Linked DNA regions of Homo sapiens. The protein of the gene in region 2 purifies or fractionates together with the protein of the main gene of each other region. This does not show direct contact. Each region holds a gene or a part of one and is shown on either strand. Other genes may lie near its edges. The genes, in order: ARFIP1, GIMAP2 and LDAF1.

The links.
Region 1: the proteins of GIMAP2 (region 2) and ARFIP1 purify together in Homo sapiens (affinity purification with mass spectrometry; one large-scale study listed by BioGRID and IntAct). This does not show direct contact.
Region 3: the proteins of GIMAP2 (region 2) and LDAF1 purify together in Homo sapiens (affinity purification with mass spectrometry; one large-scale study listed by BioGRID and IntAct). This does not show direct contact.

What each region holds. Positions count from the first base shown.
Region 1 is NC_000004.12:152,786,350-152,790,003, reverse strand, and holds part of ARFIP1 (arfaptin-1), read right to left. Parts: intron 1-3,654. UniProt on the Homo sapiens protein: Plays a role in controlling biogenesis of secretory granules at the trans-Golgi network. Mechanistically, binds ARF-GTP at the neck of a growing secretory granule precursor and forms a protective scaffold.
Region 2 is NC_000007.14:150,684,179-150,688,530, forward strand, and holds the start of GIMAP2 (GTPase IMAP family member 2), read left to right. Parts: upstream 1-1,527; 5' UTR 1,528-1,607; intron 1,608-1,943; exon of another isoform or gene 1,944-2,529; intron 2,530-2,873; 5' UTR 2,874-2,881; coding exon 2,882-2,909; intron 2,910-3,418; exon of another isoform or gene 3,419-3,535; intron 3,536-4,352. UniProt on the Homo sapiens protein: The heterodimer formed by GIMAP2 and GIMAP7 has GTPase activity. In contrast, GIMAP2 has no GTPase activity by itself.
Region 3 is NC_000016.10:21,175,575-21,178,449, forward strand, and holds part of LDAF1 (lipid droplet assembly factor 1), read left to right. Parts: intron 1-1,562; coding exon of another isoform or gene 1,563-1,584; exon of another isoform or gene 1,585-1,587; coding exon of another isoform or gene 1,588-1,660; exon of another isoform or gene 1,661-2,875. UniProt on the Homo sapiens protein: Plays an important role in the formation of lipid droplets (LD) which are storage organelles at the center of lipid and energy homeostasis. In association with BSCL2/seipin, defines the sites of LD formation in the endoplasmic reticulum.

The DNA.
Region 1 (3,654 bases), on a different chromosome or scaffold from region 2:
AGCAAACATAGTGCCCAGATATTGGTTTCTAATACTATTCTCCAATAGAAGGAATCAGTGCTCCTTGGAGAAAAGGCTGATTCTAGGCCTGTGGTAGGTAATACACAAGGTGAGCCTAGAGCATTTTGTAATACCAGAAAGTTAAAAGTGCTCAAAAACAAACAAACAAACAAAACAAGAACAAAAGTCTCACAATGACAGGAGTATGTCAAAGGAATACAGGAACCAACTAAAAGAGCTCCCAGTGGCCACAGCTGAAACAATTTGAGCAACAAAGTAATAAAGTACTACTGGATTTACCCTTAAGTATAAAATAAATATCCATGAGTCAGACTGATATAAATAAACGACTGAAAGGGGAGAATAGACAAAAAACTCTTATAGAAGATTTTTCAAAAATTTATGTAGACACTTCACCCTTAAAGAGGTAAAGCATAATTCCCCAATTCCCAATTGTGTGCTTCACAGAGAGACTTTCTTCTAAAAAGTACAATATACAAAAGGAGGGGGAAAACAGAGTAACTTTACAGTGGACAAAACTGATGAACATTATCTCAAGCCAAGTAGTCAAGGTTAATATCAATGGTACTGTCATATTAATAGTTTGTATTCTTGGCCAGGTACAGTGGCTCACGCCTGTAATCCCAACACTTTGGGAGGCTGAGGTGTGTGGATCACCTGAGGTCAGGAGTTCAAGACCAGCCTGGCCAACATGGTGAAACCTCTCTCTACTAAAAATACAAAAATTAGCCGGGCATGGTGGCATGTACCTGTAGACCCAGCTACTTGGGAGGCTGAGACAGGAAAATCGCTTGAACCCAGGAGGTGGAGGTTGCAGTGAGCCGAGATTGCGTTACTGCACTCCAGCCTGGGCAACAGAGTGAGACTCTACCTCAAAAAAAAAAAAAAAAAAAAAAAAAAAAGTCTGTATTCTTGATATGATGTGATGGGAATGGCACTTTACTTCTGTGATCTTCCTCCTAGAAACATATCACCCAGTCTAATGAGAAAAACAGCAGACAAGTCCCAACTGAGGGACAGTCTACAAAATACCTGACCAGGCAGTAATCTTCAAAACTATCAACTTGTCATCAAAAACAAGGAAATCTGAGAAACTGTCAAAATGAAAGGATACATGACCACTAAAGGTAATATGCTATCCTAGATGGGATCCTTGAACAGAAAAAAAAAAAAAAAAAAAAGACATTGGGGAAAAGTGAGGTAATCTGAATAAAATATGGACTTTAATAATTACGTGCCAATATTGGTTAATTGTGACAAATGTACTATGCTAATGTAGTATGTTTTTGTTTTTGTTTTTTTGAGATGGAGTCTCGCTCTGTCATCCAGGATGGAGTACCGTGGCATAATCTCTGCTCACTGCAACCTCCGCCTCCTGGGCTCAAGTAATCCTCCCACCTCAGCCTCCCAAGTAGCTGAGATCACAGATGGGCACCACCATGCCCAGCTAATTTTTTGTATTTTTGGTAGAGATGGGGTTTCACCATGTTGCCCAGGCTGGTCTTGAACTCCTGAGCTGAAGCAATCCACCTGCCTTGACCTCCCAAAGTGCTAGGATTACTGGCATGAGCCACTGTGCACAGCCTATCTTATAATAGGGGAAAGTGGGTATGGGAAGCTCTATTCTATCTTCACAGTAATTCTGTAAAACTAAAACCATCCAAAAATAAAAGGGTCTATTACAAAATAGTGTAAGAATACTGTGCTATATTGCTATATTTTATATAGCTACTAATAACACATTTTTTGTTTTGAGACGGAGTCTTGCTGTCGCCCAGGCTGGAGTGCAGAGGCACGATCTCGGCTCACTGCAACCTCTGCCTCCCAGGTTCAAACGATCTTCCACCTCAACCTCCCAAGTAGCTGGAATTACAGGTGCAGGTCACCACGCCCAGCTAATCTGTATATGTATATTTTTTAGTAGAGACAGGGTTTCACCATGTTGGCCAGGCTGGTCTTGAACTCCCAACCTCAAGTGATCCACCCACCTCGGCCACCCAAAGTGCTGGGATTACAGGCGTGAGCCACTGTGCCCGGCCTAATAATTTATTTCCATACACTTGAAAGAAATAGTCAAACTGAAAATTTAATTACAGGTTGATTATCCCTTTTCCAAAATGTTTGAGACTAGAAATGTTTTGGATTTCAGATTTTTTTGGCATTTGGAATATTTCCATATGCATAATGAGGTATCTTCAGGAAGGGACCCAAGTGTAAACACAAAATTCATTTACATTTCATATACACCTTATACACATAGCTTGAAGGTAATTTTATATAATACTTTTAATAATTTTTTGCATGAAACAAAGTTTGTATACACTGTACCATCCAAAAGCAAAGGTGTCACTATCTCAGCCACTCATGTGGACAGTCTGTGGTTGTTTGACATCACTATCATTCCCGTCTCTGAATTTATATGCTACGTATAACCAATCATTTCTTACACATACACATGGCATTGTATTGCCCTTTGCGGGCATGCTTGCGTAGGTGCATCTGGCTGTGTGAGGAAAAGATATATGGCAGCTGAAGGGGGCTAGGCAGGTCTTTTTTCTCTTGGAGAAACTGTTGTACACCTGCATTCTGACTTTGATTCATCACATAAAGTTGGGTGTAGAATTATGTACTTGTAGCATCATGTTGGGCTCAAAAAAGTTTTGAATTTTGCAGCATTTTGGATTTCAAGTTTTTGGATTAGGAATGTTCAAACTGTACTACCATTTTAACACTATTTTTATAAAAATTCATATTCAAATTCTTGTATTACAAAACTCGATGAACTGAAATCCTTAATACCATTAACTTGGAAATTTAATGAGTCAAATTTAGGTGTCAGGTACTGAGCTAGGTTCTAGGGATTCAAAAATGAGCCAAAAAAGAAAACAAGATATGGACCTTACCTTCATGAAGTTTATAGGCCACTGAACAGAAAGAAAATCTTACAGTCACATGAATAAATGTAAATTGCAAACTGCGGGAAATGTATGATGCTATTACCTTAATGTGGGAAGTGAGCATATTCTCTAAGGATGCAAAACTTCAGCTGAGGTGTGAAGGATGACTAGGAACTAACAAGTGAAATGAAATGAAAGTAAAGAAAGAATGGTCCAGACAGAGAGAAAAGCATGTACAAAAGCCTTGCAAAAATGGCAGGGAGCAAGGTGCATACAAAGGACTAAAGAAGGCCAGCATGGTTGAACTGGAGAGTTATGCAGAACATGGTACAAGATGAGTCTGGAGAGCTAAAGGCTGTTAAGCAGTTTTATTTTGATCCTAGAAGCAATGGAAAGCCATAAAAGCACTGGGGGAGGAAGAAGGAGAGTGATAATCCAATGTGTGTTTCAAAATAAATCACTGTGCCTTCAAGATGGGTAATGAATTAGAGAGGACAGATAAGAATGGAGGCTATTGTAAAAGTTTCAGGCAAGATGAAGTGGCAGTAGTGGAAACAGGAAGAAATAGAAAAATTCAAGAGTCATGTAGAAAGTAAGACTTTAAAAACTTGTTCAATCATTGGATCTATCAGGGAGAGGGAATTAAGGATCACTTCTAGTTTTCTGGATTTTACAATGAAAAGATAATTGTGTCATTCACTGAAAAAAGGAACAAAGAAAGAACCAACGTTGTGCA
Region 2 (4,352 bases):
TGAGCCGTCAGACCTGTCCAGAAATTAGCTTATGCTGAAGAGAGATGCCCTATGTAAGTCAAGTGTCTTTTCCAGAGGAAGTTTGCATCCGATGGGGATTATAAAGTTCTGCTCACTCTCCTTCATTCTGAAAGTCCAACCAAACTTTAGAACTCCCTGTAGAGTCTATATTTGTTGTGACTACATCTCAGTCTCACTTCTCCCTGCCTAATCCTGGGTTCTTCCCTTCTCCCTCTAGCACATTTCCTGAGAAGATTCCCTAATAAACTTCCTTCATCCATTTTATCTTCATCTCAACAGTCTGTATTCCTAGGAACCCAAACCTTTGCACATGTACATGTACATATCACTTATGTTAGGAAACGCAGTGATGTAATTTGCAATATTAGTAGGTCAAAAGGAAAAAGACATGGAATTATATCAGTCAACGTCAAAATAAAATTTTCTAAATTTATACCACAGATAAAAGACTTTAATGAAATAGGACTAAGCAAAGTATAGCCACACTGATTTTAAAATAAACTAATTAATTTCCAATAACCAACATCAATATTAATGATAAGATATTAGGTGCCCTACAGGTAAATAAATAATAAAAGCACATTAACTCACTTTTGAAAAGGTAGCAAGCAATTGTAATTATACAAGAGAAAGCAACATAAGATATTTTTGGAAACAAGGAGGGAAAATTATCACTATTTGCAACTGAGTCTATGATAAACCTGGAAACTCCAAGACAATCAAAAGGAAATGTTTTAAATGCTAGGATGTGGAGAAATAAGAACACTTTTACACTGTTGGTGGGACCGTAAACTAGTTCAACCATTGTGGAAGTCAGTGTGGCGATTCCTCAGGCATCTTGAACTAGAAATACCATTTGACCCAGCCAACACTCCAGAGTATTACTATAGACATTTCCTAGACAATTTCTCCCCACAGGGAGGTTCTCTGAAATTACAGAGCTGGACAGGGAAGAAAGGCCCAGAATCCTAGAAGCCATGAATGAGTTATGTAAAAATGTTTTGATGGTTAATGATCCTTACAATCAGACTCAGACAAAAATGTCCCCTCTCAGGTTCCCCTTTCTGTGCCCTTCTTCCCCTGGGCAGTGCCTATCAGAGGCTCCTCTTCTCTCCCAGTGGCATCTGCTTTAGAACAATCCCTGCTGCTGGTGTCAATGAGGTTTAAGCCCTTCTCAGGGGGCCATTTGCATCTAGACAAACTTCTAACTGTTGGGACATATCCCAGCTGGGAAGGACTGAAATCCACCAACTTCCTTGGCATTCATGCCTTTCTTTCCAGTCCAGATGAAATCATTAAAACACTCTTTTTTCACTTTTGAGAAGAAGAGACAGTTGGCCCACATGACAGCAAATAACTACTGATTAACTTTCCATTTAAACTGTTTATTTTGCATAATGGCATGAAAGAGAATTTCAAACACAGGCACGTGGTGGCGTTCATTAGCAGTCAGGAAGCTCAGGAAGATTCAAGAGAGGAAGAAGACCGACTGGAGTCTCGGTTTTACTTTCTTTTTCTCTTGGAGCTGAGCTATAAGACAACAGGACTGAACAGGGAGCCAACTGTTTCTTTGAACAGTAAATCAGGTAAGCCCAGATTTACGAAAAGTTCTGCAGTGTTGATTTCTAGGTCCCAAGCCATGCACAAACATTTTCATTTTTCTTAGAACAAATTTGTCCTATTTTAAGAGAAGCAATTTAGAGTGACTGCCTTTTCCTTAAGTGGAGCCAGTTTACAGGAAACCGATGTAATTTACTTTACACATTACTGGCAAAGAAAGAATTTCCATAGTATAAAGTCAATAAAAAGTGCTAACTGGGAAGAATTTGGGCATTAATCGGTGGCTTTCAGTTTTCTGTGCTTGTACGCTTGGTCTATGCCTGCCAGATTTAAGCAAGAGAAACTAGCTGATGAAAACGTACCGATATTTCTCACTCCATAGTAGTTCCTACATTGCAAGGGCTTCATAACCAGGGGCTGTTGGGGAATGAGAAAAATTCAAGCCATTAATGGATCAAGTGAAGTGTATTTCCAGCTTAAAGGACTGCACGGTTTCCCAGAGTCATAATCTTCATTCACTGAGTCTCTCAGCAAAGACTCAACATGAGGGAGGAGGTTTGGAGAGAGTAGAGGAGGGAAGGAGGCAAGGTGGGAAAAGAAAGAGAGGGAAAGGGAGGACTGAGCCTAAGGTGTAAGGGAAGGCACACCTACAGAGAAAGCTGACAGAAGCGAAGAGTGTGCAGGCAAAACAAAAACAGAAGGGAGCCGGGCTGATCTGTGAGAGGACGGGAGGAAGAAAGCGAGAGAGAGCTGGGCATGAGGCTTACAAATGAAACCCACTTCTCAGCCCCTCAGCAAGTGATTCCAGTTCTCTGTAAAGTAGGAAGTCATTCCTTTCCCACCCACCTTGTCCCTTATGAGTAGACAAATGAAACATGGTTGTTTAGAAATATAAGGATCTTGGCCTAGTGTGATGGCTCACGCTTTTAATTCCAGAACTTTGGGAGGCCGAGGCTGGTGGATCATTTGAGGTCAGGAGTTTGAGACCAGCCTGGCCAACATGGTGAAACCCTGTCTCTACTAAAACTACAAAAATTAGATGGGCATGGTGGTGCACACCCATAATCCCAGCTACTCGGGAGGCTGAGGCAGGAGAATCACTTGAACCCAGGATGTGGAGGTTGCAGTGAGCCGAGATCGCACCACTGCACTCCAGCCTGGGTGACAGAGTGAAACTGTGTCTCAAAAAAAAAAAAAAAAAAAAGAAAGAAAGAAAAAGAAAAGAAAAGAAATATAAGAATTTTTCATGATTTAGAACTGAAAAATAAGTTTCTTGTCTCTCTGTTTCTCAGGAACACCAATGGACCAAAATGAACACAGTCACTGGGGTAAGAAGGTGACTTCACGTGTGTGTGTGTGTGTGTGTGTGTGTGTGTGTGTGTGTGTGTGTGTGTGTTTGGCTCTTCTGATGATGTTGGGGCAAAATAAACAAGGGTGAAGGATCTTATTCTAACTCCCACAGCTACCACCACCAGCAGCTGAAAATTGTGGGGTTTTGTTTTCTTTGTTTGTTTGTTTGTTTGTTTGTTTTGAGACAGTGTCTCTCTCTGTCACCCAGGCCGGAGTGCAGTGGCGCAATCTCGGCTCACTGCAACCTCCACCTCCCAGGTTCAAGTGATTCTCCTGCCTCAGCCTCCCAAGTAGCTGGGACTAAAGGCACACACCACCACGCCCAGCTAATTTTTTTTTGTATTTTTAGTAGAGACGGGGTTTCACCATATTGGTCAGGCTGGTCTCAAACTCCTGACCTTGTGATCCACCCGCCTCAGCCTCCCAAAGTGCTGGAATTACAGGCATGAACCACCAAGTCTGGCTCGAAAATTGTTAAAATACTCACCAGGATCCAAAATATGCATCCAGGCTTTTCCCTTATGCACAAATCTTTCAGATCTCTTTGAAATACTCCTTCTCCTACCATTCAGTCTTCTCTTCCTTCTCTCACATTTCCATAGGTTCTTTGTGTGTGTGTGTGTGTGTCTCTCTCTCTGTCTTTCTGTCTGTCTCTATCATTCCCTTCTCTTCCCTTGTCCTTTCTCTCTCTCTCCTCTTCTTGCACCTGTTTCTGCTATCTGTATGGTATGGGCGTCTCTCTCTCTGTATCTTGACCTCCCCTTTCCCACTCCCTCCTCCTCACTCTCTGCCCCTCGACAGCCCTGTCTTCAGTCTCTTACATCAAGAAGAGCCCAGATCTTCCTCCTTACCAAGTTGCCTTCACACTCAACCCTCACCTGTGAGAAATAGGAGGTCTCTGGCTTCATTGTGTATGGAACTTGTTTATTGATCAAGCTGAACTCTGAGATCCAAATGAGAAACAACTTTTTTTTTCCTCCCAGCCACTGACTCTTATTATGCAATCTTGATTTCCTTTTGTTTTGGTTGCGGGGTGGAGGGAATGGAGTCTGGCTCTGTGGCCCAGGCTGGAGTGCATTGGTGCAATCTCAGCTCACTGCAACCTCTGCCTCTCAGGTTCAAGTGATTCTCCTGCCTCAGCCTCCTGAGTAGCTGGGATTACAGGCATGTGTCATCATGCCTGGCTAATTTTTATATTTTTAGTAGAGACAGGGTTTCACCATGTTGGCCAGGCTGATCTCAAATTCCTGACCTCAAGTGATCTGCCCACCTCAGCCTCCCAAAGTGCTGGGATTACAGGCGTGAGCCACCACGCCCGGCCACAATCTTGATTTATTGATGCCATCTCAGGCAGTTGCCTTTCTGATTAATAGAGACTAGAAGAATAGTCTATTAAAGTCACTATGACACATGTATCAGGT
Region 3 (2,875 bases), on a different chromosome or scaffold from region 2:
TAGCATGAAGGCAGCACAGACCAGGAAGTAAATGCATGGGCATGGCTGTGTTCCAGTAAAACTTTATTTACAAAGACAGGCAGCTTGCTGGATTTGGCCAACCATTGCTCTATAAGAACTGATATCCTGAGTTTTGTTTTTCTACAAAACAGCCCTTGAACTCCTTACCAAAAGTTTATCCTGTTATTATTCCTATGTTGAAAAATAAAGGGTGAAGTGGGTATAATATAAAATTGCTCAAGGATGGCTCTTATAGGATTGCTTAATTGAATCAACCCTGGAGTCATAATCACCTTTTCAAAAATCGCTTTGATCACTCTTAGTCTTTTGTTTGTTCATTTGTATTTTACTTATAAAATGGGGTCTTGCTGTGTTGCCCAGGCCATTCTCAAACTCCTGGCTTCAAGCAATCCTCCCCCGTTGGCCTCTCAATGAACTGGAATTATAGGCGTAAGGCACTAACTCACTCCCAGTCTTAAAAGATGTAAAAGGAGAAATATTGGCCTATTTTGCATATTGAGGGTGATGCTTCTGAAATAAAATTCCTCCCTGCCTCTGAACGCTGCTGTAACAGGGTGAGTTCTTAAAGATTATACCACAGGAAGTAGCAGAATCTGACTCCCTACTTATCAATGAAGAAATTGAAAAACAAATCCAGGATTTGTACTTGATCTCCTTATCTTCCCCTATTGCTGCCAACCAATTGTTTCCACGTGGGCAGAGGTTCTTAAGCTTTTTGTTCTCAAGTCCCATTTTACCTTCTTAAAAATTATTGAGGCATCTGAAGAGATGTTATTTATGTGGTTAATTGTATTAATAGCACTTTGGGAGGCCAAGGAGGGAAGATCACTTGAGGCCAGGGGTTTAAGACCAACCTAGGCAACATGGCAAGACCACATCTCTACAAAAAATACAAAAATTAGCCAACTGTGGTGGTGCGTGCCTGTAGTCCCAGCTACTCAGGAGGCTGAGATGGGAGGATCATTTGGGCCCAGGAGTTCAAGGCTGCAGTGAGCTGTGATCACACCATTGCACTCCAGCCTGGGCAACAGAGCAAGACCCTGTCTCAAAAAACAAATGAAATGAGCTGAAATATAAAATAAATAACTAACATGACATAAAACTATATACAATAAAATAAATTAAAATAAACATAACATAAATTACATTAAATCAAATTAAATATTAGCTGGTGCATGCTTGTGGTCCCAGCTACTCAAGAGGCTGAGGAGGGAGGATGGCCTGAGCCTGGGAGGTTGGGGGTGCAGTGAGCTATGATTGTACCACTGCACTCCAGCCTGGGTGACAGAGCTAGACTCTGTCTGGAAAAAAAAAAAAAAAGAATATTAATAATTATTTCTTTTTAAAAAATTTTCTTCCTCATTGTTTCTTGTTCTGAAATAATTATTCTATGAGAAATCATAGCATAAATTTTAAAAATATCTATTCATTTAAAAGGAACAATATTACCTGTTGATATAAATAACAAATTTTAATGAAAAGTAACTATATTTTCCAAAACAAAATGAAATTTGTGAGTGGTATTATTTTACATTTTACAGATCTCTTTCATATCTGCCTTAACAGTTGTCAGCCGGCTTCTCGTTTGTGTGGCTGCATTCATTCTGTTGTGCTATGTTGTCCTGTTTGGAGTATTTGAAGAAGACCTAGCATCACTAACATGCGGTTGGGAGAGGGAGGCAAAGCTTTTTTAAACGATTGTGGATATTCTATGATAGTCCACCAAAACTCCGTAAGTGATAGTTTCTTAAAGGTTAGCTGAAATGTGAAATTTTTCTACTCTATTTTATTGAAATCTTCAGGTCTGTGTCACACTTTAAATTGATCTTTATCATGCATGATTTTCTAACTTTACCCATTGGTCAATGGGAGAATATCAATTCATTGAGTCATGCAGATCTTCCAAATATATTTTGAAAAATTGCACTGTTCCCTTGTGAGAGAATGTGAGTGAAAAAGGCATATAATAGGTCATGTTATTGTGAACATGGTTTTCATCTGAGAACCCTTGCATTAGCGAATTCTTTTTTTTTTTTTTTTTTTTGAGACGAGTCTCACTCTCACCCAGGCTGGAGTGCAGTGGCTTGATCTTGGTTCACACAACCTCTCCCTTCTGGGTTCAAGCAGTTCTTCTGTCTCAGCCTCCCGAGTAGCTGGGATTATAGGTGTGCACCACCATGCATGGCTAATTTTTGTGTTTTTAGTAGAGGTGGGGTTTCACCATGTTGGCCAGGCTGGTCTTGAACTCCTGAGCTCAAGTGATCCACCCACCTCAGCCTCCCAAGATGCTGGGATTATAGGTGTAAGCCACTGTACCCAGCCTGCATTAGTGAATTCTTTATAACTCAAAAAAAGATAACTCCCTCATTAAATGATCGAAAGCATGGAATGGGGGGAAGAGGAGCTATATAATTTATTTCATGATTTAATGGAATTTTGGCCCTAAAACATAAAAGATAATACAGCTTAAATTTTTAAAAAAGAAAAGAAAAAGGAAACAAAACTGTAAGTTTCCCTTACATATGAAACCCAACTAAACAATATTTAGATCAAATACACTGACCTGCCTCCTATGTAGATCAGCTAGCCTCTGAGGGGCAAAACCACACTGCTTGGTTATGGAGACTGCAAGACCTTCCAGGGCCTGCAGCTCAGGAGAAGTAGGGGCCCTGGGCAGCTGTGTTTATTTGCAGAGCCACCAAACTCACTACCCCATATCATAATCTTCCAAACCAGCCTGAGCATAACTAGCTTCCTTACATCTTTACTAAGAAAAGGAAAGGCTTCTTTCTTAGTTTTTTGTTATCAGGGAGGAATGGTTTAGGTGGCAAATAATGAAAAAAACCAAAGTAGA